Linked DNA regions of Homo sapiens: region 1 is linked to region 2. Evidence: fine-mapped expression QTL. Tissue or cell type: whole blood. Region 2 holds a variant in brackets; the other region holds the start of a gene. All regions are shown on one strand. Distances are between the middles of the regions. Region 1 holds the start of CARMIL1 (capping protein regulator and myosin 1 linker 1). Region 2 overlaps CARMIL1 (capping protein regulator and myosin 1 linker 1).

Region 1 (16,337 bases), 120 kb before region 2:
AGAAAATCTAAATATCTAAAAATATAACAAAGGGTGCAATACAATCTTAAGGTAATCGCTAGAAAGAAAGCAAAAATCTGAGCAGGTTTTTAAATTAGTACTTTTCCAACAGGTCACTTTTAAAGTATTTTGACTGTCTGATAACTCCCTACCTGCGCTGACTCAACATAATTGTGAATTATTTGTAAATTTCCTATTCATCAAAGATGCAGCAGATTTGCGAACAGAGTTTCTAGCTAGATAGCCAAGGGAATCATGGGGCTATTAGACAGCTAACTTTTTTTCTTAAGCTTATTGTTTATTGGAACCAAAGATAAGTTGTTTCAAGGCTAGGACCTCCGGAATGACTCAGTTAAAATGAGCCAGAATTCAGAATTTAGAAGCCTCAGAGCCAGCTTACCTCACTTCTTAAAAATATTTGGAGGAAAACACTAGGGAACTGAGTTGTAATGGGGAGGTGGGTAAGAGGAGTAAAACCCTCTTATATACCCTTGAGAGCTGTTTGAACAGCAAAGATTCCCAAAACAGGGACAAACTATTTCTAGGGATAATCTATATATGCAAATATAACTGTTTATTGAATGAATTCGTCCATATGGGAACGATTATGATGCTTCAGGACATGGATGATTTCACTACAATCTCAAGAGTTCAGTTAAAGAGGAAAACTTTCCATCTGCAATCCAAAACATCCCACACTTTTCTCTAGTAACAAATAGGGAGGTCTCAAAAGACAAGTTATCCTTTTTAGGAGATCTCCACAGCCTGAACTAATGAGCAACTGAACAATAATAATCTCATTTTTATGACAATTCATGTGACGACATTGAACAATGGGAAAATAGGAGATAAGCAATGCTGATGAAATGTGTCAGTGGCTTAGCATCATTGATGGCTATTATTATTTTTACTTCTTATGTGGCCAGATTTTTTAAACAGAAAATTTGGAAAGATTTCTCAGACTGCTATTTTCTCTTTTTAGGTTGACTTATTTATTGCCCCCACTTCAGAAATTACTTTTTGAAATTGCCCCAGATATCAGGTTCCAGAGGACAGAAGCAAACAACAAAGGTTAATCCTGAGTATACAGATATTAATAAAAATAGAAAAGAAATGTGAAAAATAAGTACATTCACTAATAAAAGTAGTTTAGTATTCTTTTTGTGATTGATCAATATGCTAAAAATACAACACACACACACATACACAACAAAGTTAGTAAAACTAAACAAAAACACGTATCGCCCATCATTCAGCATTCACAATACAATGATTTGCTGAAATTTCTCTTAATTTTTTCTATGTTTTATGCCAACTTTATTGTGGTAGCAGATTGTGGTATATTCCCTCCCCTAGAGCATGGAAGGGACCTGTAAATATGATGGGATCTTTCATTATTAGGTTGTGTTATATGTAGTACAGATGACTTTAAGAAAGAGGGACTAGGGTGAGGAGGAAAGGGAGGGAGAGAATTAACCTAATGCATGCAGGGCTTAAAGCCTAGATGACAAGTTGATGGGTACAGAAAACAACCATGGCACTTGTATACCTATGTAACAAATCTGCACGTTCTGCACATGTATCCCAGTACTTAAAGTTAAATAAATAAATAAATAAATAAATAAATAAAGAGAGAGAGAGAGAGAGAGAGAGAGAGAGAGACTAGCCAGGTGCAGTGAGTGGCTCACGCCTGCAATCCCGCACTCTGGGAAGCCAAGGCAGGCAGATTGCTTGAGTCCAGGAGTTTGAGACCAGCCTGAGCAATGTAGTGAAACCCTGTCTCTACTAAAAATACAAAAATGTTAGCCACGCATGGTGGTGTGCACCTGTAATCCCAGCTACTCAGGAGGCTGAGACAGGAGAATCACTTGAGCCTGGGAGGTTGAGGCTGCAGTGAGCCAATATTGTGCCACCGCACTCCAGCCTGGGCAACCACAGTGAGACCCTGTCTCAAAAAAAAAAAAAAAAAAAAAAAGAGAGAGAGAGAGAAAGAGAGACTATACTTGGTGGTCCTGACCTGTCCAGGTGAGTCCTTAAAAAGGACAAGTCTCTTTCTGGTGAAAGAGGTTAGAAGCATGAGAGGAGTTTGATGCAAGAGAGATTCTAGCTTTGCTCACTTTGAAAATGGAAAGGGGCCACATGCCAAGGAAAGTAAGCTGGCCCTCGGAGCTGAGAATGGGCCCTGAGTGACAGCCAGCAAGGAAACAGAGATTTCAGTTCCATAATCACAAGGAACTAAATTCTGTCAACATCCTGAATGAGGTACAAAGCAGATTCTTCCCAATAACCTACAGAAATAAACATTTCTAGTAATATATATATCATTCTGAGAGTTATTTTATCTTTTCTGATTTCCAAAAATAGAATCCCCATGGAATCTGAGGTTAGACAACTGTATGCCTCCTGTTACCACAAGTACACACTCTTTTGTGTCTAGATTTCTTTTTCTTAGCATAATGTTTTTGAGATTCATCCATATTGCCATATATAATATTAGTTCATTTCGTTTTATTGCTGAGTGTTTCTCTCTCTTTATTTTATTTTATTTATTTTTTTGAGACAAGATCTCACTCTGTCACCCAGGCAGGAGTACAGTGGTGGGATCATGGCTCACTGTAGTCTCGACCTTCTGGACTCAGGTGAGTCTTCCATCTTAGCTTCCCAGGTAGCTAGGACTACAGGCACACACCACCATGCCCAGCAAATTTTTTTTTTTTTTTTTTTGAGACGGAGTCTTGCTCTGTAGCCCAGGCTGGAGTGCAGTGGTGCCATCTTGGCTCACTGCAAGCTCTGCCTCCCAGGTTCACACCATTCTCCTGCCTCAGCCTCCCGAGTAGCTGGGACTACAGGTACCCACCACCACACCTGGCTAATTTTTTGTATTTTTAGTAGAGACGGGGTTTCACCGTGTTAGCCAGGATGGTCTCCATCTCCTGACCTCGTGATCCGCCCTCCTCGGCCTCCCAAAGTTCCGGGATTACAGGCGTGAGCCACCATGCCTGGCCTGCTTAGGATTTTCTATGTATACAGTCATGCCATCTTCAAATAAGACAGGCTTTTCTTCCTTTCTGCCCATTATGTCTTTCATTTCTTATTCTTGCCTTATTAGTATTGCTAAGACTTCTAGCATAATATTGAGTATAAATAGGAAGAGTAGATACTCTTGTCTTGGTTCTGATTTAAGGAGGGAAGCATAAGGGGGACTAAATGCTTCCACCAGTAAATATAACATTACTTATAGGTTTTCCATAGATTCAATTTATTAATTTGAGGAAATTCTCCTCTATCCTAGTTAATGAGAGTTTTTATTTTGAATGGATGTTGAATTTTGCCTTATGGTTGTTTGTGTGTGTAAAGAGATAATTGATGTGACTGTTTTTCCTTTTCTTTATGGGATGGTTTTTATTTTGAAATTCAAATGTCTTTCGTAGATTTAGGGCTTTTCAGATTTTTTCTATTTCTTCTTGAGTCACTTTTGACATTTTTATCTTTCAAGGGATGTGTAGGTTTCATTTAACCTGTAAAATTTATTGGCATAATGTTCTTCATAATATCTCCAATATTATCCCTTTTAATATTTGTAATCATGTCCCCCTCTCATTCCTAATATTGGTCATTTGTGTCTTCTATCTTTTTGTCTTGATCAGTCCACCAAGTGTTGCATAAAATTTAATAAATTTTTTTGCAAAGACCCAGATTAAGTTTTACTAATTTTAAAAAGTTATGGGTCCAATTTCAATTTCATTGATTTCTGCTATGACCTGTATTATTTTCTTTCTTCTATTTACTTTGGATTTTATTTTCTCTTCTTTTCCCAGCTTCTCAAAGTCTCCACCAGATGCCCAAAATGAGAACAGATGACTTCCCACTTGGACTGGTCAGAACTCAAATATCTCTCTGCCCTGTGTGAGCTCTAGAAGTAGTTCACCTTACAATTCTCCAGTGGTTTTTGCCTGCCCTTGTGGAGTTTCACCTTATTCCTGTCTGGCCACATACACAGCAAAGACTCAAAGAGACCCCTATGCAGATTTTTGGAGCTCTTTTCAGCACAGCTCCCTCATCTCTAGAACTCTACCTCGTAACATTCAGCCCCCTTGGCCTCTCTGATCCCTACATCTGCTTGACTCAATAGACTCTGTTTAGGATCCCCCTCTTTGCATCTACAGTCTGGTTATTTCCAGGAAGATATCAGGGGCAATCATAGTGATCACCTTGTTTGTTTCAACTTCTTTTAGTGATTAAATCTTGTCCTACCTGATGTCCAATGTTTGAAAAATAAAAGCTTTTTACGTTCTGCATATTTTTCTGGGTTTTTGTGGGAGAGAATGTCCAATCCTTGCTATTCCATTGCAGCCAGAGGCAGAATTTCTCTCACTACAGATTTTTGAAGTTTTCTTTTACTTCCATGCTCTTCTATGTCCCTTGTTGGGGTTTGTTTGTTTTGGTCTCTGGCTTTCATGGTAGAGGCTTTCCTCAAATGTCAGTGTGCCTTTGATGTCTGTATTTACAGTGAGGCATAACAAAGCTGATCTGAAGCTTTACATGAATGGGCAGGCTTTGTCAAATGGTGGGTCTCAATTGAGGGGGACAGGTGGGGACTTGACCTATTCACTGGCCAGTCCCTGTAGGTCAGTATCTCATAGGTTTTTCATTTAAAGATGATTAATAACATAGGAGAGGAATTCTCCAATTCTCTGACTGGAATTATAAGCCTTGCTGCTAGACTTCTGATAACTAAACAGAGAATGAATTTTTGAGGGGCTTATATTTAGGAATATTTCCCTTTCCATATGGTATGGCTTCTCACTTTCACCCTCTGCTGTTCCAAGACTAGGTCTTTTTTGGTTTAACCTCTCCAAAGAGTTAACTTCCCATCTGAGGCAGCTGTGCAGGGGGTGCATAGACTGGCTGTGTGAGGTAGGGGAGGGAATCTATGGAGTGTCTAGAGCTTTTAAAATCTGTACCAATCCTCCTTCATTCTGTACTTCCGCATTTAGAGATAACTTATGTATCTAGTTCCTGAGATTTTTCTTGGATTCTGCTATAGAAATTAACTTGCTTTTTATTCACTCTCTCCCCGGAGGGTTAGAGTTTATCTTTCACTAGTCTGCTAAGTCAGCTACCATGCATCTATTAGCTTTCTCAGATCCAAAATGTTGAATTTTCTTGTTTGTTACTATCTCCTATTTTCTTTGTCCTTGTGGCTTTATGCTTTTTTTTTTTTTTTTTTTTTTGAGATGGAGTCTCCCTCTGTCACCCAGGCTGGAGTGCAGTGGCATGATCTCAGCTCACTGAAATCTCTGTCTCCCGGGTTCAAGCAATTCTCTGCCTCAGCCTCCAGAGTAGCTGGGATTACAGGTGCCCACCACCATGCCCAGCTAATTTTTTTTTTTTGTATTTTTAGTAGAGAGGGGGTTTCACCATCTTGGCCAGGCAGGTCTTGAACTCCTGACCTTGTGATCCACCTGCCTCTGCCTCCCAAAGTGCTGGGATTACAGGCATAAGCCACTGCACCCAGCTGCTCTATGCATTTTTATATAAATTATTAGGCTTCTTTTTTTTGAAAAGTTAAAAACTCTTTAATTCTTTATTCCTGGTACCACTATCACAATTTACAGGGCCATACACCTGATGTAACGAAAAGAAAAAAAAAAGTTACAACAGATAAAAGACTTCAGGAATGTACATCTAATTGACACTACATTGCATTAATCAATAGCTGTATTTTTTGCAAACTGTGGTTATGACAGTCCTGAACAAGAAGGGTTTCCTATTTAAGCTGCAGTAACTTTTCTAACTATGGATAATTGTTCCTTTTATGGCAGATTTTTCCAGTTCCTCTAATGCATTTGAGACGACTGTCTCAAAGTAACCTGCTGCTTTCCTGGTAACTCCTCACTTTAACTCCTGCTAGGAACTGAAGCCCTTTTTTGCTGCTTTTTAGAACCTTCTGTTATTATATCCACCACTTTTACCACCAGATCCATAATCACCACCATAGGGACTGCCCGAGCTTCTTCCACCCAGAAAGCCTCCTTTCATGGGTCCATAATTTGATTGCTGTTGTCCACTATAATTTCCAAAATCACTATACTTCCCACCACCATCATAGTTACCACTGTCAAAATTTCCTCCTTCATTGCAACCATCACATCCTCCACCATTGCCACCATATCCACCACCTTGGTTTTCATGTCCTGGTCCACCACCACCATAGCCCCTTATTTTACTATAACCAAGACCACCACCATAGTTGCCACCATCACTTCCAAATCCATTATATTCACCATCACCTCCTCTGCAACTATCTCTGCTTCCAGCACCTCCATCATAGCCTCCTCTTCCACCAAAGTTTTCACCACAGCCAAAATTACCTCCACCGCCTCCAAATTTTGCTCTGTGACAATTACAACTTTATCAACTGTATTATGATCCTAAAAAGTTATGGCAAAGCCAGGTGCAGTGGCTCATGCCTCCCAAGCACTTTAGGGGCCAAGGTGGGAGGATCGCTTGATCCAGGGAGTTTGAGACCAGCCTGAGCCACATAAGGAGACCCCATCTCTACAAAAAATTTAAAAATCAGCTGGGTGTAATGGCACATGTCTTTGCTCCCAGCTACTTGGGAGGCTGAGGTGGGATGATTGCTTGAGCCCATGAGGTTGAGTGAGCTATGATCAGGCCACTGCACTCCAGCCTGGGTGATAAAGTGAGATCCTGTCTCGAAATAAAAAATAAATAAAAGTAAATTTTAAAAAAGCAAATCCCCTCTTTTTTCCACTCTGCCTGCCTTCCATAACATCTATGGTTTAAATAGTGCCATACTTTTCTTTCCTCTCTCTCTCTCTTTCCTTCTTTTCTTTTTTTGAGACAGGGTCTCTCTCTGTCACCCAGGCTGGAATGTAGTCGTGCAATCTTGGCTCACTGCACCCTCTACCTCCCAGGCTCAAGTAATCCTCCCATCTCAGCCTCCCAAGTAGCTGGGACCACAGGCACGTGCCACTATGCGCGGCTAATTTTTGCATTTTTTTGTAGAGACGGGGTTTCACTATGTTGCCCAGTCTGGTCTGTCCCAAACTCCTGGGCTCAAGCAATCCACCCACTTCGGCCTCCCAAAGCATTTGGAATTACAAACGTGAGCCACTGCACCTGGCCTTGCCATGCTCTTCAAATTACATTCTTCTCTATCTTCCTTGATATCACAAACAAAGATTTTCTTCATGGTTAGATGGGCACCAGGCCTTATAGAATCCTCTCTAGAAACAGCTCTCTTTGGTTCCAGTACACACCTGTCAGCCTTGTGTGTCCACCTCTTTAACACGAGAGTAAGTCACAAAACCAAAGCCTCTGGAATGTGTTGTTTGGGAGTCTCTCATTATCACACAGCCTGTGAGTATGTGCCATTTCTCAAACTATCGTCTGTATTTTCAAAGCTGTGAACACAGTAAACAGTTTTCTCAAGTGCTCTGGTTCCTTTGGATCATGTGCCTCCATTTTGAGCCCGGACTCGCCTTTTCCAAATTGAGTTCAATTTGGGACTGAGAGGAAGAGCAGTCTTCTTTTTTAAGAATAGTTTTAGGTCTACAGAAAAATCGAGCAGAAAGCACAGAGAGTTTCCATATGCTTCCTACCCCAGCGGTGTCCCCTATCATTGTTTTGCATCAGTGTGGTACATTTGTTGCAAGTAATGGGCTAGTAATAATATTGATACAACATTATTAAAGTCTATAATCTACATTAGAGACTTGATGCTGTTTTATTCTTCTCCTCTCATTGGAAAGTGGCAGAAATAAATGTAAGTATTAAATCTTCGAGGGTTAACAGAAAGTCTTCTATGTAGGCCTTTGGCTACTTCTCTCCTTTTTGTCACCCTCAAAATTCTAGAGTCATATGTATTCCCTTTTTCCCTTCATCTTTTCCATCTCTTCATTATGCTTCAACCCATTGTACTTTATCTTCTCTGTCATTTTACTAAAATATATCTTTCCACAGAAAACAATACCTCCTTTATTACTAAGTTCAAGTATGCATTATTATTCCTTATCAAATTTAACTTTGTAGCAGCACAGGACACTGTTAACCCTTTCTCCCTTCTTGAATTATTTTTTACTTAACTTCCCAACTTGGTATCTTACCTTCCTGATTCCCAGCTACTCTAATCATTGATCCTTTACTTTCTCTACATTAGCCCCATTCTCTCTCTCTCTCTCTCTCTCTCTCTCTCTGCTTTAGCCAGTCTCTAAGATGGTCCTCAATGATTCCCAACTCTTGGTATTCACATTCTTGTGTGTCACCTTCCTCCATTGACCTGGGTTGATCCATGTGACCAGTAAAATAGAACAGAAGTGATGGTATGTCATTTCCAAGATTAAGTTATAAAAGATGTTGCATTTTTTTTTTGTCTTGGTCTTGCTCTCTTTCTCCTCTAGACTGCTCCATGAGGGCTGCATGAAGCAGCCACATAATTTACCATTACAACCTCTGGCAAATAGTAAGTGCTCAACTCATATTTGCTGAGTCAATTTATATAAGAACCTTTCCACATTTTATTGCTTCCTCTCTCCCCCTCCTACGAATTTCTATAGCACTTACTGAACGCATTTTGACATCTAGCACATTTTGTATTTATTATTTTATAAAAGGGCTTGGCTCAGTTGAGCCTTCTGAAGGAATGTTCCCTCACCTACTATGTGGCTGGCACTGGGCTAGTTGCAGGTCAATCGAAGCTCATCTTGATCATCCTCCTAGAGAAGGAGCTCCTTGTAGGTGAGTGGGGCCAAGCCCTGGTCACCTGTATGCTTCCCAGGGAACCTAGCCTAGGAGCCTGTAGAGTAGCATAAAAACGATATTAAAATGGGTTGGGTGTCGTGGCTCACACCTGTAATCCCAGCACTTTGGGAGGCCGAGGCTGGCGGATCACTTGAGGTCAGGAGTTTGAGACCAGCCTGGCCAACATGGTGAAACTCCATCTCTACTAAAAATACAAAAATTAGCCCCATGTGGTGGCACACACCTATAGTCCCAGCTACTCTCCTTGGGAGGCTGAGGCAAGAGAATCACTTGAACCCAGGAGGCGGAGGTTGGAGTGAGCCAAGATCGCGCGCCACTGCACTCCAGCCTGGGTGACCAAGCAAGACCCTGTCTCAAAACAACAACAACAACAACAACTATAGTAAAATGAACATTTACCTGGAAATCTCAAATTCTGAGTTCAATCTTTGACCCTTAAGGCTGTGACTCTGGGCAAGTCACTCCACAAATGTGAACTTATTTCCTCATTGTGATAAAGATATAGTAATTATACTTTTTACCCAAGGAGTCACTGGGTAGCTCAGATATGTCAAACCCTTATTTCCTCACTTGTCATAGGTCACTTATTGTCAGATGAATCATGGATTTCATAATATATTTTGCATTTGTGTTGGGAATGGGGTGTGAAGAGCATGATTTTAACCATCTATATCAATTATAAAACATTCAGATTTCAGTAACTTTAACATAAGAAAATGTTTCTTTGAATCAAGACAACACGTTATCTATTGAAGTGTTCAAGTGTTCTGAAGTTGGAAAACCATTGTAAAACTGGGAGCTCTAATTATGTCACATTCAAACAGATGTGTTCTGAATTAATGACTGAGTTGATTTTCCTCTTTTTTGTTCAGTCATGTGTTAAGGATTCGTTCTGTTTTATTATTGTTATGAAACATTGCAAACACATACAAAAGTGAAAGCAATGCCTTCCCATGGATCTGATATCCAGCTGCAACAAAAATCAACACAAGGTCACTCTGATTTCATCTATATCTCTACTCAATACTCTCCACCCCCCACCATCCCTATGGGCTATTTTCAAGCAAATCTCAGGTCTCATATAATTTCATTTGTAAATACTTTAAAGGAGTATTGTTTAATAGCCATTTACCTTCCACCGTCTTCTAGTCAGAGATAAACTAAGTTTTCTTAGAGGTGTTTGCAAGCTTAGTTCACATTGCCTACCCTCCTGAAAGATCTTTATTAACCAAGTTGAAAAATACACCTTCTTAAGAAGGCCCCTTCCCCAATGGTTACTGGGGGTGGAAGGTAATCTTAAAATCATTACTTGGGGAGTAAAATGCTGGTGGTTCCCACATTTCTGAATACCTTTCCATTTTAAAACCAGTTCTTAATGCAGTAGACGAGATCAGAAACTGACCTACGTAAGTTTGTGATTTTTTTTTTTGTTAGAGTGCTGATTTCTTCTTAACTTTTTTGTTTGCTTTATCTCCATGGGTTTAATCATTACATGATATGGTTCTAATGATAGCATGTTGTGTCATTTTAGGGACACTATTTTCTGCAAACTTTTTTACTCAGAGTGTTTTCTGACCATAATGCATTACAAAATGTACTATATAGATGTGAATATATGCTTAGAATTAAAAATAAAAATCCATGGATAAGTTTTCAAAATAATGTTGCCACTCACTGTATGTTTCAAAAGAGATGGGGTTTCACTATGTTGCTCAGTCTGGTCTGTCCCAAACTCCTGGGCTCAAGCAATCCACCCACTTCGGCATCCCAAAGCATTTGGAATTACAAATGTGAGCCACTGCACCTGGCCTTGCCATGCTTTTCAAATTACACTCTTCTCCATCTTCCTTTTCAAAATAATGTTGCCACTCACTATATGTTAAATGTTAAACATTTTACAGATTCAAATGCAGTAGGGATTCTCTGAAAAAGTTTTATCTTACTAACAGCTTTCAGATTATCAGTACTAGTTGTATGGCTTAAACACAGCCACATGTAAATACTTACTTAGATGAAGCTATGGCTAATCACATATGTAACACAATCAGTTTCATGTAGTGGTTTGATCACTCGTGTATTCAAGACTATATAAACAGGGATGAATTTGAGGAAGTTGGAGTGATGGAGTGAGAAAAGTTTGTTTTTGCAGCAGTAGCAGTAGAAGGGGCAGGCCGATTCAGTAAACAAGCACACATTTCAGAATGCAAACTGCATTCTCCAAGCTGGCACCATGGTTTTACGGTGCTAGGGATGTTTACTGCTTGTTGGGTTTGCAGCTTTATAAACAGTGCTCCTTGGAGTTCTCTGCTTGCTATTCTGAAACATATTTGAGTTTTGCAACCGAGAAGTAAATGACTTTGATTTCCAAAATCAGTCAGTCATTTTTCAGTGTTGTGATAGGAGATTCATTTGAATTCACTTCTTCAGAGATGCAGGAGCCAATCAGGATCCTGTTGCAGTGAAAATGATTCTTTTATTGAAACCCCAGCTTCCTTTAAAAGAAGCCAAAGAGTACTGAATTACAGAACTGCCATACAGCCTTCCCTTTATTCTTTCCATCACCCAGGCCACAGGAAAAAAAAAAAAAAGACAAACTTTTGTTCTTATTTTCACAAGTTATCACATGGTTTGGAAACTTCAGGGCATTTCTGAAACTTCATTGGTATGTGCCAGAAAAGTCCTCTTTAACACACCAGGTTGAATGAAAGACAGTTTGAGATGTTAATTTCCATTTACTGCAGAAAAAATATATTTAATGCATTAAGGAAATGTCTAGCTTAAAGAAATTGCCCACTTTTGAAACAAATGGTTGGAGGCCTGAGGTCCAAAGCTCTAAAATCAGTTAACAAATGTTTATTGAACACCTATTTTGAACTAGGCTGTTGAAGAAGTTCAAAAGTCTAAGATAAATTCCCACTTTCAACTCACCTACAGTCTAGTTGGGCAGAAAAAATCCAAACTCAGGGGACAATGCAAGAGTTAGATAGTAAAACCAGACAAATACACAAGCAATGAAACACGACACCATATGGTTGGGTTTAGAAAAGTGTTTCAGGCAATACATATTGTAGAGGCTTAGGGATCACAGTAATCTGAAAATCCCTGGAAAATATTCACAAAGAAGGTAGACCATTGGGATGGGTTTGAAAACATAGATAAGAATCAGATAACCTTAAGAGGAAGGAGGAAGCAAACAGTGAGTCTGGTTGTAATAGAGAAGGGAGTGGGAGAGGTTAAGGAGGGTGGGAAGGGGCCAGGTTGGCAAATCCTTAGTGGTAAGGCCTGGCTGTGGGGCTGAAGATGATTCTAAGGGGTCCAAGGTCAACAGCAGTGTTTAAAATTAGATTGCCAAGTGCATGGATTCCCTTTCCTTTCCTCCTTTTCTGTCCTTTAAAAGCAGAACCTGATTAGACAGTCTGGGACATTCCCAGCCCTAGGCTAAAAAGCAGCGATTGAGGCACAAAGTATTCTTGGCCCTGAAGTTGAACCTCTGGGGATGGAGCTCAGGGAAGTCATAGGGAGTTTGGGCCCAGGTAGGATCAGACCTATCCGCAGGCTTACATAGGCTCCAGTGATTAAAGCTCAGCTTCCTGAATATGCCCCGAGGATAAAAGAGACTTTTCCGAGTGAAAGGCATTTTCCAAGGCGCTCTCAACGGGAATGTCTGAGATAGCGAACTGCGGCTGCAGAGCACCAGCTGAACGCACACACACAAGTGTCTTCTCACGGTATGATTAGTGTTCACAGGTTTCGTCTAGCTCATCAGAAATGAAGAATAGCGATGATGAAGTGACATGTCACCGGGAGGGTTGAAAAAGAAAAAGTGCGTAAGAGGGTCCCAAAAAGAACCAGCTTCCGTGTAGACGGGTCTGCAGAATCTGCCGTCTCCCGTCTTCTGGGTCCCCTGGCCCGCCCGGAGTGGGGACAAGGAAATGGAAAGCCCGGCTCACCCGGCTCTCCTCCCTCGCAGCCAGCAGATGGCTCCCGGGCTCTCTCGCGAGCCCGCTCGCCCCCTCTCCAGACGCAGGGCTTTTGCGGTTTGGGAGGGAGGCTGCGAGGAGGGGCGCGGTGCCCGCCGCCGCCACCGCAGCACCGCACAGCGTCTCTCCTGGGGGTGCGACCTACGCCGGGGACCCAGCGCTCGGGCACCGGAGGCCGGCCTCGCACCGGTGCGGAGGCCGGCTCTCGCGAGGTGAGGAGGAAACGCAGGAGGAAGAGGAGAAGGAGAAGGAGGAGAAGGAGGAGGGCCGGAGCTGCCCCCGCCCAGCCGGAGCCCGGCAGGAGCGCGAGGAAAACCTACTCCCCCCGCCCCGCGCCGCTCTCCCCGCCCTCTCCCACGCCTTCCGCTTTCACCTAGGGCTGTAGGTGCGGCGCGGAGGCTGGGCGGGAGCTACGCCGGCCCAAGCCCCGCCGGGGACCAGCGAGCCGGGAGGAGGAGCAGGCGCCACAGCCGCCCCGCGCCCCGCGCCCGCTTGTAATCCGGTCCGCTCCTTATTCAGCCGCCGGGAACTGCGAGGAGGCGTCATGTAGCAGCAGCAGCAAATCCGCCTCGCATTTGCAACTCTTTTTTTTTTTTTTGGTGGGGCGGGGGGCGCGCGGCAAAATTCTGTCTCCGCCCCCCCTTTTCTTGCCCACTTCCATTTGCAAGCTGCATCTGCCTCTCTAAAAAAATTGAGGAGTTCGGGGAAGGGCAGGGGGCCATAAATCAGAGTTGGACCTGCAATAACCCCCACACCTACAGGGCAACCATGACCGAGGAGAGCTCTGACGTTCCCAGGGAGTTGATAGGTAAGATTCACGCGGTTGTTGGTTTTCCACCTTCCTCTGCGTACTCCTCACCTCTCTCTCCCTTCCCACCTCTGCTTTCCCGCAGGTCTCGAGAAGTCTTGGCGCCCCTTAGGGCAGAGTGGTGTTGGGCAGGGTCACTGGGGGTGCCGGGAAGTTTGTTCCCATCCGACCGCCTGTAGAGCCAAGTGCAGAGAGGGAAGGCTTCGGGGAGGAATCGGGAGTCCTCGGGAGGTGGGTGGGAGGAGGGTCTCGACTGTGAGCCCTGGGCACCTCCTCTTGCCCGGAAGCGGGGATCCAGGTTGGCGAAAGAAGGGGGCGGGCCATCTTAGACTTGGGAGTTCTGCAAGCGAGGGGAGCCCTTTACAGCTCCCAGCCCACTGCCCCAAACTCGGGAAAGTCCGGGAAAGCCTATTGGAAGGACAGGTGGCGAGCGCACAGTAGGTCGTCTCCGGCACGTGTCAGGCGCTTTCCTGAAAATGCCCCGCGGGAGGTGATCTTCTGACACGCAGACTTGGGGGAGTGGGCGCTAGTCTGGTAAAATGACTGGGCTTGGCAAGGTGTGGCTTGGTGTAGCCAGCTGGGAGCGAAAGGGTTACAGGGCTGACGCAGACTCAGGCCAGGAAATAGAGGGTTAATGATAAAAGCCTTATTTTAATAATGATTAACCTACCGATTCTCCCTATAGGGGATCTCTTAGGGAACCCGTGTGTGTTACGCTGTGCAAGGTGACCCATTGTTTGAGTACCTTGAGGTTTTTTTTTTTTTGGTGGTGGTGGGGGCGGGGCTGGTTAAGTCTTGGGGTTTAACTTAATTATCTGGAGGGTTAAAATGGCAGAGCTGAAATAGGATGGGAGAGTGTTCTGAAAACCTAGCGTTTAAGCATGTATATGTGTGTAGCATGTTATACTGTAACAAGGTATGTGCGTCTGTGTACAGATGTGTTTTGAGCCCTAGTGACCTATATTCCCTCCTGTACCATTCTTGGCACACTACACAGCCTACAGCTCACAAAGATGATGTTTAATCGGCGCTGACAACAAGAGGAAGTTCTGAGCACCCGTTGATCTCCATGTGTGGAATTTGCCCCTCTGTTGTTTCTTTTAGCTAATAATACTTTGGAGGAATTTGTGTATGCCCTTCCGTTGGTGACTGTTAACTCAGCAGGTAAAACTTGATGTAGAGAGGCTGTTGCTAGGTTTGTATGGAAGCCCCTACTTCTGCTGAATTACAGACAAACCTGATCTTTTACCAGAATTTACAGTATGAAATTATTCACAGACGCACGCGCGTGTGCGCGCGCGCACACACACACACACACACACACACACACACACGCACCTCTCATCATGATCCCAGCAGATCCTCTTCTCTCTCCCCAACCCTGTGGAGTCTGCATCTTTTGCTGGAGTGAGTGACACATCCGGTTCTGGGAGGCTGCGACCTTTCCAACACCCCAAGCAAACGCCAGAGGCTCTGAAGACGCCTCCAGAGGTCCTGAGAATGAGTGTAGGGCAGGGCTTGCCTGGCTGGTCAGGGGATAAGGATGGCTAAAGTGGGTGGCAGATTTTTACTTTATATAAGGAGTTGTCCTTAAGTCTGGAAATGGAAAGTGTAGGTAATTACTTAGGCCCAAGAGAAAGAGTGAAGGGTAGAGTGGAAATAAGGTGTCTGGGTTTCTATTCATGGTTCTCAAAAGGAATAGTTTGTATATTTTAAAAGTTGAGTTTGACCTTTATCTTGAAATGGAATTTTTGTTTTTATTAAGTATTGCCTATCTCTTTCAAGAGAGTGACATATTATGCCCGATATGATTTTTCTGGGCCTTTCAGTGGTCAAGTTAGGCTGGGATAGAATAAATACCTGCACCTGCTTTCCTCTAAATTCAAGTGCTCACAAGAGTTCTGCTCTGATCAATTCAAAATGGCGACCGACCACATGAAAACCTCTATATATTCCCTTAAGATTCCCTCAAGATATTTAAAAAGTGTTACAGACTTGGCTGAGCGTGGTGGCTCACCCCTGTAATCCTAGCACTTTGGGAGGCCGAGGCAGGTGGATCACCTGAGGTCGGGAGTTGGAGACCAGCCTGACCAACATGAAGAAACCCGGTCTCTACTAAAAATACAAAAATTAGCTGGGCGTGGGGGCACGTGGCTGTAATCCCAGCTACTCGGGAGGCTGAGGCAGGAGAATCACTTGAACCCGGGAGGCGGAGGTTGCCGTAAGCCGAGATCAAGCCATTTCATTCCAGCCTGGGCAATAAGAGTGAAACTCCATCTCAAAAAAAAAAAAAAAAAAAAAAAGTGTTATAGACTTTATGTAGAAACAATTTAAATGTAGAGAAGAATAAGAAGACTATATGTCACTCCTGTTACCACTTAGAGGTAGTTATTTTAAAGGGTATATGATTTTCCAGTCTGTTTCCATGTGTATATGTTCTTAAGTCAATTTCAGATGCCCATTTCCCGCAATTCTTTTTTAGGGGAGGGAGGAGTGGCCTGTGCTTGTTTCTCGAGTTCTGATAAGATAGGAGCTTTGTGAAGAACTCATAGTGCAGTGAGCTCTTCTACATGTTCCCTTGCCCCAAACATTCCACCTCCTTGCTGTTCCTTGAACAGGCTGTGCTTTCTCAGATTTCCATGCTGTTCTTTATGCGTACACTGTCTTTTTCTCCCCGTTTTCACTCTTTATCTCAGCAGCTCTAAACTTTCATGGCGGTATTTCCAAGAAGAAAATTTTGATTACCCCTTATTAAACATATA
Region 2 (8,000 bases):
ACCTGTAATCCCAGCTACTTGGGAGGCTGAGGCAGGAGAATTGCTTGAATCTGGGAGGCAGAGTTTGCAGTGAGCCGAGATCACGCCATTGTACTTCAGCCTGGGCAACAAGAATGAAACTCCATCTCAAAAAAAAAAAAAAAAAATCATGGTTAAGTTTTTAGGTAGGGCATGGTGGCTCATGCCTGTACTCCCAGCATTTTGGGAGGCTGAGGCGGGATGATCACTTGAAGCCAGGAGTTTGAGACCATTTTTGGCAACATAACAAGACCTGCTCTACAATTTTTTTTTTTTTTTAATTAGCTGTAGTCCTAGCTACTTGAGAGGCTGAGGCAGGAGGATCGCTTGAACCCAGGAGTTGGAGGCTGCAGTGAGCTCTGATTGCACCACACACTCTAGCCTGGGCAACAGAGTGAAACCCCATCTCTTAAAGAAAAAAGAAAAGAAAGATCATGATTGTTGTTGCTATTGTTATTGATGAATAATACGTTCTTGGGGAGGTAGTGTGGCTGATCTTCCACGCTAAGTTCCCTTTTCTTTTTCACCTATTTCTGCCTTATGTGATTCTTTTGCCATTTTCTTATGAAATTTTTCTAACATACAGATAAGTTGAAAGAGTGTTAAGTGAGCACCCACATACCACCACTTAGTTTCTACCATTTACATTTTACTTGCTTTATCACATATCTCTCCATCCCTCTGTCATTAGCCAGTGTTTACAAACTTGTATTTACAGAGAAAGATGCATGATAGTTATTTTCCCTGGGAAATGGAGCCCTTCCCGCTATGATTTTGTTCATCTTCTTGGCAGTGATAGTGATGGTTATGATGACACAGTAGCCAGCACAAAGCAGCACACTATTAACTCATTCAGTCTTCTAACAACGCTAGAAGACAAGTGCTAAAGTGCTAAAATTAATTTCTGTTTTACAGAAGAGGAAACTGAGACACAGAGAGGTTAAATCATCTACCCAATATTACACAGTTCCTGAGGGGCTAAGTCAGAAATCTGGTAAACACTTGAGTAAGCCTTGTTTGTTTGCTTGCTTTTAATCTGTAAAATCAGTGAAAAAAGAAGTAAGACACCATTTAGGAATAGGAAAAATAACTACTGCAGCTCTTTGTGATTCAGGTTGGTTTAATGACTACTGTGTGGCAATTGTACCAAGTGTTGGGTTTGTGCAAGTGGTTAAGTCAGGGTCTCTCCTCTCAAGCCAGTCTAATGGACAGAGCCACTATGAGTTGTTGGATTGATGTTTTAATATAAATAACCGTACTGAAATTGTTAGAAATCAAGGGTTTCAGTAAAGGAGAGTTACCTAATTGTACTTAAAAGAAACATTTATACATTAACAGTTACTATTTTGGGGTTTCTGTGAGAAGATTAATTATTCCAGCAAATGAGTACTACCTATTTGGAAATGTCTTACTGTTTATAAGTAAATATGTTACTTATTTCCTTTTGCCTTAGCAGAGAAAAATAATTTGGGGAGAAATACACCCAGGAAACCTTAAAATATATTCCGATTAATGGTAACTCTTAGACTATTTATGGTAAGGTGTATCTAATTACATTTCACAAGGCACTTTAAAAAATATTGTCCCTTCAAGTTTTTTCCCTTTATTTCTCTCCATGATTTTGTCTAAATTTACCAGCAAGTCACAAAAAAATGAAAATTAAAACCCTACTGGGGACTAGGAGCTCGCTGAATTGGCTTACATCATTGTAAGCATGGACATATTTCTGTGCGTTGCTGTCCCCAAGCCCATGCGCTGTTAAGAATATGCATTGTCGGGACGGCGGTGCAAGGAGAAACATCCTGGAGAGGACGTACAGGATACAGAAACAAGTGACTGCTGTGACATCATTAGTCAACATTGGTTGAGTGACAGAGTAAATAAGGCATCTTCTGTTATAAATGATTGACACCGCTGAAAATTTAGAAACATCTTGCTCCAATAGCAGCATTATCTTCTTTGGACTATGCAAATCTTTTCAAATTAAAAATTCAAGTTAAAAGAAACTATTTTTAATTGACCCTCATTGCGGCCATTCCTTGATCAATATCTCTGAATAAGATTGTTAACTGAACAATGCATCTTCTGGCAGAAATAGAGATAATGACCGTTTTGTTTTCACTTATTTTTCTTGTTACAAAATTTAAAAGTAACATCAATTTTAAAAGTCTTTTTGTTATACATAAGTTACATTTTGGGACCTTCTTTAATGATTGCTCATATAGTATTGCTCGCTTTTTGAATCAGTGATCTGCCTAAGCATTTGCAAGTCACTCTTAGCATTCCTCAAAAGTTGCTGTTATAAATGATAATTTTACATAGAGGATGGAGGAAATGAGAAAATTGCGTTTGTCTTCCTATTGAGGTAAGACATAAGCAAGTGGAAAGGTGGTTTCCAGCCGGGGAATGAAGCCTGTTGTTCATGCTGTTGTGTGTTGACTTGTCCACTTGGATGGCTCCTAGGATCATGCGGGTCCTTGTGACTTCCATATGTCACAGATCTTGCGTACAGTTTCTGTGCCTTGCCCTCCTCCCAGTCTTTTCTGCCCTGTGGTTATTTCTCTACTGCCACTGAAGGGTGGCACTCAAGCTTTTCCTTATATGAGATTCATCCCCTTCAGGGTATGCGGATTCCCTGTGAAAAAGCTGAGCAGGTTTATTTTGACAGCACTACCTGGAGGGCTTGCCCCATTTCTTTTCAGGAAAATTTAAAATTATTCTGCTTTTTTTTTTTAAGACTGTCTACTTCATTTTATAAGCCACAACATTATAAATACATCTAAATTTAATAGTAGAATTATAACATTGCTTTCAAAATTTCTCACTGGGTCACAGAATTACAGAGCTGAAAGAGACCTTCACCAGAAGCAAAACCATCCTGGGAAAATAAATATCATGTTTTAATTTTTTTTTTTCCTTTTTTTTTTTTTCTGAGATGGAGTTTTGCTCTTGTCACCCAGGCTGGAGTGCAGTGGCATGATCTCGGCTCACTGCAACCTCTGGCTTCTGGGTTCAAGCGATTCTCCTGTCTCAGCCTCCCGAGTAGCTGGGATTACAGGCACCCACCACCACGCCCAGCTAATTTTTGTATTTTTAGTAGAGACGGGGTTTCACCATGTTGGCCAGGCTGGTCTCGAACTGCTGACCTCAAGTGATCTGCCCGCCTCGGCCTCCCAAAGTGCTGGGATTACAGGCGTGGGCCACCATGCCTGGCCGTTTTAATCTTAAGGTAGTTTCACTAACTCATGGTAACTTTGTTTATTTTTTTGTATTAACAACCTTTGCTGTCAGTAGAAAAGTACACTTTTCTACTTCTAAAACTGCCACGGAATAATAATGGAGTCACAGCGTCCTTAGAGATGGGCATTTTTCACTCCATGCAGAGATGCGGAAATGGGCTCAGAGAGGACAAGGGGCTCACCCAACATTAAATGGCTATTTAATGGCAGAGTAGGGATGAGAACCTGTCTTCTGATTGCCGGTCCAGTGTCTTCTGTAACACATGGGGCCATTTATTTTAAGCCATCTAGTCCCCAGCTGATTAACAATTTTCATGTACAACCTAGCTCATGAGAGCGGCATCAAGGAGGAGGTTGTCATTCAGCAAACACTTATTGAGGGGGGATACCAAGATGAAGATCATGAGACACTGTCCTGCCCTCAGGGGGCTAAAACTCCAGAAAAGGTTTGCAGGCATATTTACAGCTAAGTGCTGCAAAGAATTAAGCATTCTTAAGGTTCTTTCTAGCTCAGTCATTTGAACTTCTTTTCCCCCAAAAAAACCCTTTATTTCCCCAACTCCACAAAAGCAAGTCCTTCTTGGTTAAGCCCTCATACAAGCGGAAGTGCTGGTGTCTGCCAAGGGGGCCTTGCAGGCTGTTGGGCTAATTGTGGTCCAAATCCCCTTTCAAGAGGGCATCTTCAAGCAGGTGGTCAGAATAAAATTCTTGATGGTTTTGGTAAATGGCAGCAAGTAGAGCATGAGGGACAAGCAGTCAATAGGAATGGGGACATCTGGTGCATAGGGTGGGGCAGATAGGGAGTCTGAAGGGGTAGAGGGTAAGCAATGAAAGTTGTGGCCGTAGCTGCCAAACAAAGGGTGTTTTTACATGCACTTTTGCCACTGGTTATCTAAGGAATCTGCTATCACAGTGCCTGTGAAGAGGCCATTATTTGACACATGAGGGTTTTCAGTCAAGTGAATAGCATGGTATTCACTGGGCTGCTTAGAGAAATGCTATTATCTGGATAAAGGATGGTGGTGTCTGGATTAACTCTAGTATAGTTTCTTCCTTGGGACATCATCTCTTTTCCACTAATGGACTCCTAGGTATTCCATCACTCAGCTTAATTTTCTCGGGGAATACATGAAACGTGAAATCTTAATTTTAGACACCTAAATTGGGCAAATAAGCTTTTTAACATATACATAGATTTAAAATACATTTAGGTTTATTTTCATTCAAATAGCACATGCTTTCTGTGTCTGTGTGTGCATGTGCATGCAGTGAGGGAAGATACTGACATCTTTTCTGGATTATCATTTAATATTGATGTTATTTAATGCAAATTTGGAGGATTTAAGAATATTAGAGGGGAAAAGATTACATTTTCTAAAGAATTAGAAAAGGAGCCATATCTCTGAATGTTGGGTTACTGCAAAAGAGGAACAACTGGGTAAAGAACTATTTAAAAATTAATGAACAAGGTAATTTTATATTTTTCTGGTATGGGTGGAATTTT[T/G]TACTTCCTATAGTAAGACCTAGTGATGTCATGACTAGGACCTCTTCCACCAAGAGCTCTCAACTAGGGATAATTCATTTGTTTGTATTCAGAATTCACAACTATGATAAGCCTTTTTGATGACCAGTGGCAAAGGAACATCATCAGTCATGAAAACTCACAAATAGAGAAATCAGCAAGTATATTAAAGTAATGGATATTTCTCTTGTCCCCCAAAGGTTTCACATACAGGTTTGTCATGAGTGTCCTTAATTCTAGTTAATCTGTTTCTTGTGTAAAGTGCTTACGGTGATAAATCAATGTGGGTTTTAATTACCAACTAGCCTGTTAGTGGGTGGGAAGAAGTTTGTTTTCCAAAGCTTGGTGTTAGCAAGTCCTGTTTATGTGATAATCATATGCAGACGACACAGGCTAGCTATGTGCTGGCTATGGGAATAGAAGATTTAGATCAGACGACTATCTGCTTTATACCAGACACTGTGCTGTGTGAAGTGTGACATGAACAAGCCCTTCCAGAATCATGCAAATTATTGCTCCCCATGCGAAGACTTTTATGAGTAAATAATGTAACCAAGGATATGAGCCCCAAGAGCTGGTCTGGGGTATTGATGAGAAGCATTAGCAAGGAGAGGCTCACCTCATGGGGTGCTGCAGGGAATGTGGCTTTTGAAGCTGATAATTGAGGGTTCAAATTCTAACTCTTATCAATGTTGTTGGGACAAGTTAAATTGTTATAAACCTCTTTGAGTCTTGGTTTCCTTGTCTATAACAAGAGAATCATGGTACCTTCCTCATGGAGTTAAACGTGATAAGGTAAGTGCCTTGCCACTTCTGGTTTACAGCAGTTTTCAAAAACACCCCCCTTTTCTTCCCCGCTCACAGATGGTTCAAAAAAGGAAGAGCTATTATGAACTAGTGTGTGGAGAGAAGGCCTCTGGAAGGATACTTTTTGATACTTATGTAAGCGATCCAGGATGCACAGCCTTTTGTGGCTAGAAAAAGGCCTTAGGCCCCTGGTTTTGCAGGTGTAATACAGATGGTAGGGGCTGCACGGCTACTATGACAGTCGTTCCAAGTGTTTCTGCTCAGGATTCTGGACTTGCCATTGTCTGGCTCTGCCAGAATGTGGTTGTCTACCTGCCCAGGTGAGGATGCAACCCTTGCATTAGAGAAGACCCTCAACAGCCATGGTCTCTTTGACTGGGGAAGCTAATAGGAGACCCGAATGTTCTAAGTGTATCGTGGATGGTTTATGTTTGGTGACTGGATATGAGGCAGATTTCAGGGAATGGTTGCAAATTGGTCAAATCTGGCAAAAATGTCAGAGGCATTGAAACCACATATCAAACTAAGCCTTAAGGCATTCAGAAAATATAACAGGCTGACTTCTAAGAAGTGAAAAATATAAGTTTTGTTTAACTTATTTAACTAAAAAATGATGCTAATGAATGTGGAGGGGTGATTTGGATAGAACCTGTTCTGTGTGGGGCCTTCATGTAATCCCTAGAGAACGTGTAAATCAAATTATGCCTGGAGGAAATTTTATTTCCAATTTCAGTTGCTTTACTGATATGTTAAGGGAATTAAAAAATATTTAGCTCGGCCTTTCAGAGAGCTGTTATTACTGGTTGAACTATGACTGTTATTTTAATTCTCATTAGATAACTAGTATCTTTTGAGCTGTTGTTAGCTAGGCTGTGTGCTAAAAAGTTTTATATACATCCTCTTATTTAATCTTCACGACACTTATAGGAGGTAGATACTACATTATGTGTTTTTACAGCCAAGGGTGAGGTGTAGGGGATCTGATAATTCGCTCCAAATCACACAGCTAGTAAATGGTGGAGCTGGTCCAGGCGTGTCTGTCTTGAGAAGCGCTGTACCATTCACCTTACAATTATATCTGTAGGTATTGTCTGACTCATAGAATCCATGCAGTACATCTGTGCAGCTTCCATTTCTGTCCTTAGCCTCAATTCCTTTCTGTCTTTAGTTCTCTATCTTTACCTTAAAATCTCCATGTAAATCATGCTAACCTAGCACGATCCATGGTGCACCCACTTGGCATTTTCAGGGAAAAGGGATAAGGCCTATAAAGAAAGTCCACACCCAGCGCCTGGTTCTGCCTGTGCCCATTCTGACTGCTTTATCTTCAGTGCTTTAGATGAATGTGCATCTTCCTGGATGCTTTTCCTTCCTGCATGATTTGGAAGAATTAGAATCAGTCTTCCTTCCATGAGTTTCCCAGGGAATCAGAGGGACTTTTTAAGCATAATGATGGAATTTTTATTGTCACCTTTTGTTGTAAAATGCTCTATAGATGAGAAATAGATTATATCCATCCCCCCACCAGCTGTGCTTCATGGTAATGGCCAAAAAAATGTTCAGAATTAAGACTGGGAATTTTTTGAATTCATATCCCAAAGCTCCTTTAAAAACTTATAACTTGGGGAACTAAAACAAAGTCATTTTAGAAGGAAATGGGTTTTTCTCTAATAATGGCCATCAGAATGATTACCCAAGTGATGTCACACAGCTGGCAACCTTCTTAGGGAAGGTAACTGATAGCAGAGGAAAGTCTGCCTTTCTCTATGTTAGCACTTCAAAAACCAATTGTTCCTAGAATCTTCAGTGTCATCATGAAACATATATAAAGCCTCTGCCTATTGTTTGAGTCTCCTCTCACTAAGAGGAACCATCAATTCAGACTTGCCCAGACTCATTGAGAAGACCAGGCTAACCAAGCCATCCTTAAGAAATTTTTCTAAATTCCAAGAAGCAAAAGAATATATTTTTATTATTAAATAGCTAACATACTTACTTTAGTTTAGATTTATGATATAGTTCTAGTTTTAGGGTTTTCCTGCATATTGTATGGTACTTTTATCTCCATATATAATATATTTAGTATATTTATGCTTATTTCACAGGAACTAATAACATTTATACAGTTTTGAATTATTTTAACGGTTCACATTTGTTTCACCTTTGCTTTTATAACATTGTTATGTCTCAGCTCTTAATTAATAATGTTGCAGGGATGCAATTGCTAATTTTAATATTCCCCCCCAGAAGAAACATTTTATACACAAACACACACACACAAAATGTATATGTATATATACATACACACACAAAATGTGTGTGTTTATAGATACACATATAAAATGTGTATATGACATTGTGTGTGTATATATATTGGAGTAAAAAGCAAGGATAGTCAGCTCCTATGTTTGCTT

The links.
Region 1: CARMIL1 starts here. The variant in region 2 is fine-mapped to the expression of CARMIL1 in whole blood (INTERVAL, PIP above 0.99).

The regions. Positions count from the first base shown.
Region 1 is chr6:25,266,261-25,282,597 of GRCh38, forward strand. It overlaps CARMIL1 (capping protein regulator and myosin 1 linker 1), which reads left to right and starts at 13,114. Exons shown (of 37, transcript NM_017640.6): 1 at 13,114-13,575. The coding sequence starts at 13,536. It also overlaps the pseudogene HNRNPA3P17. RefSeq lists a silencer at 12,842-13,311.
Region 2 is chr6:25,393,429-25,401,428 of GRCh38, forward strand. The region is part of intron 2 of CARMIL1 (capping protein regulator and myosin 1 linker 1); the gene reads left to right. The region is part of intron 1 of LOC124901281 (a long non-coding RNA gene); the gene reads right to left. Among named protein-coding and RNA genes, the nearest start is that of CARMIL1, 120 kb to the left of the region's middle. The variant T/G (reference allele first, on the strand shown) is at 4,762.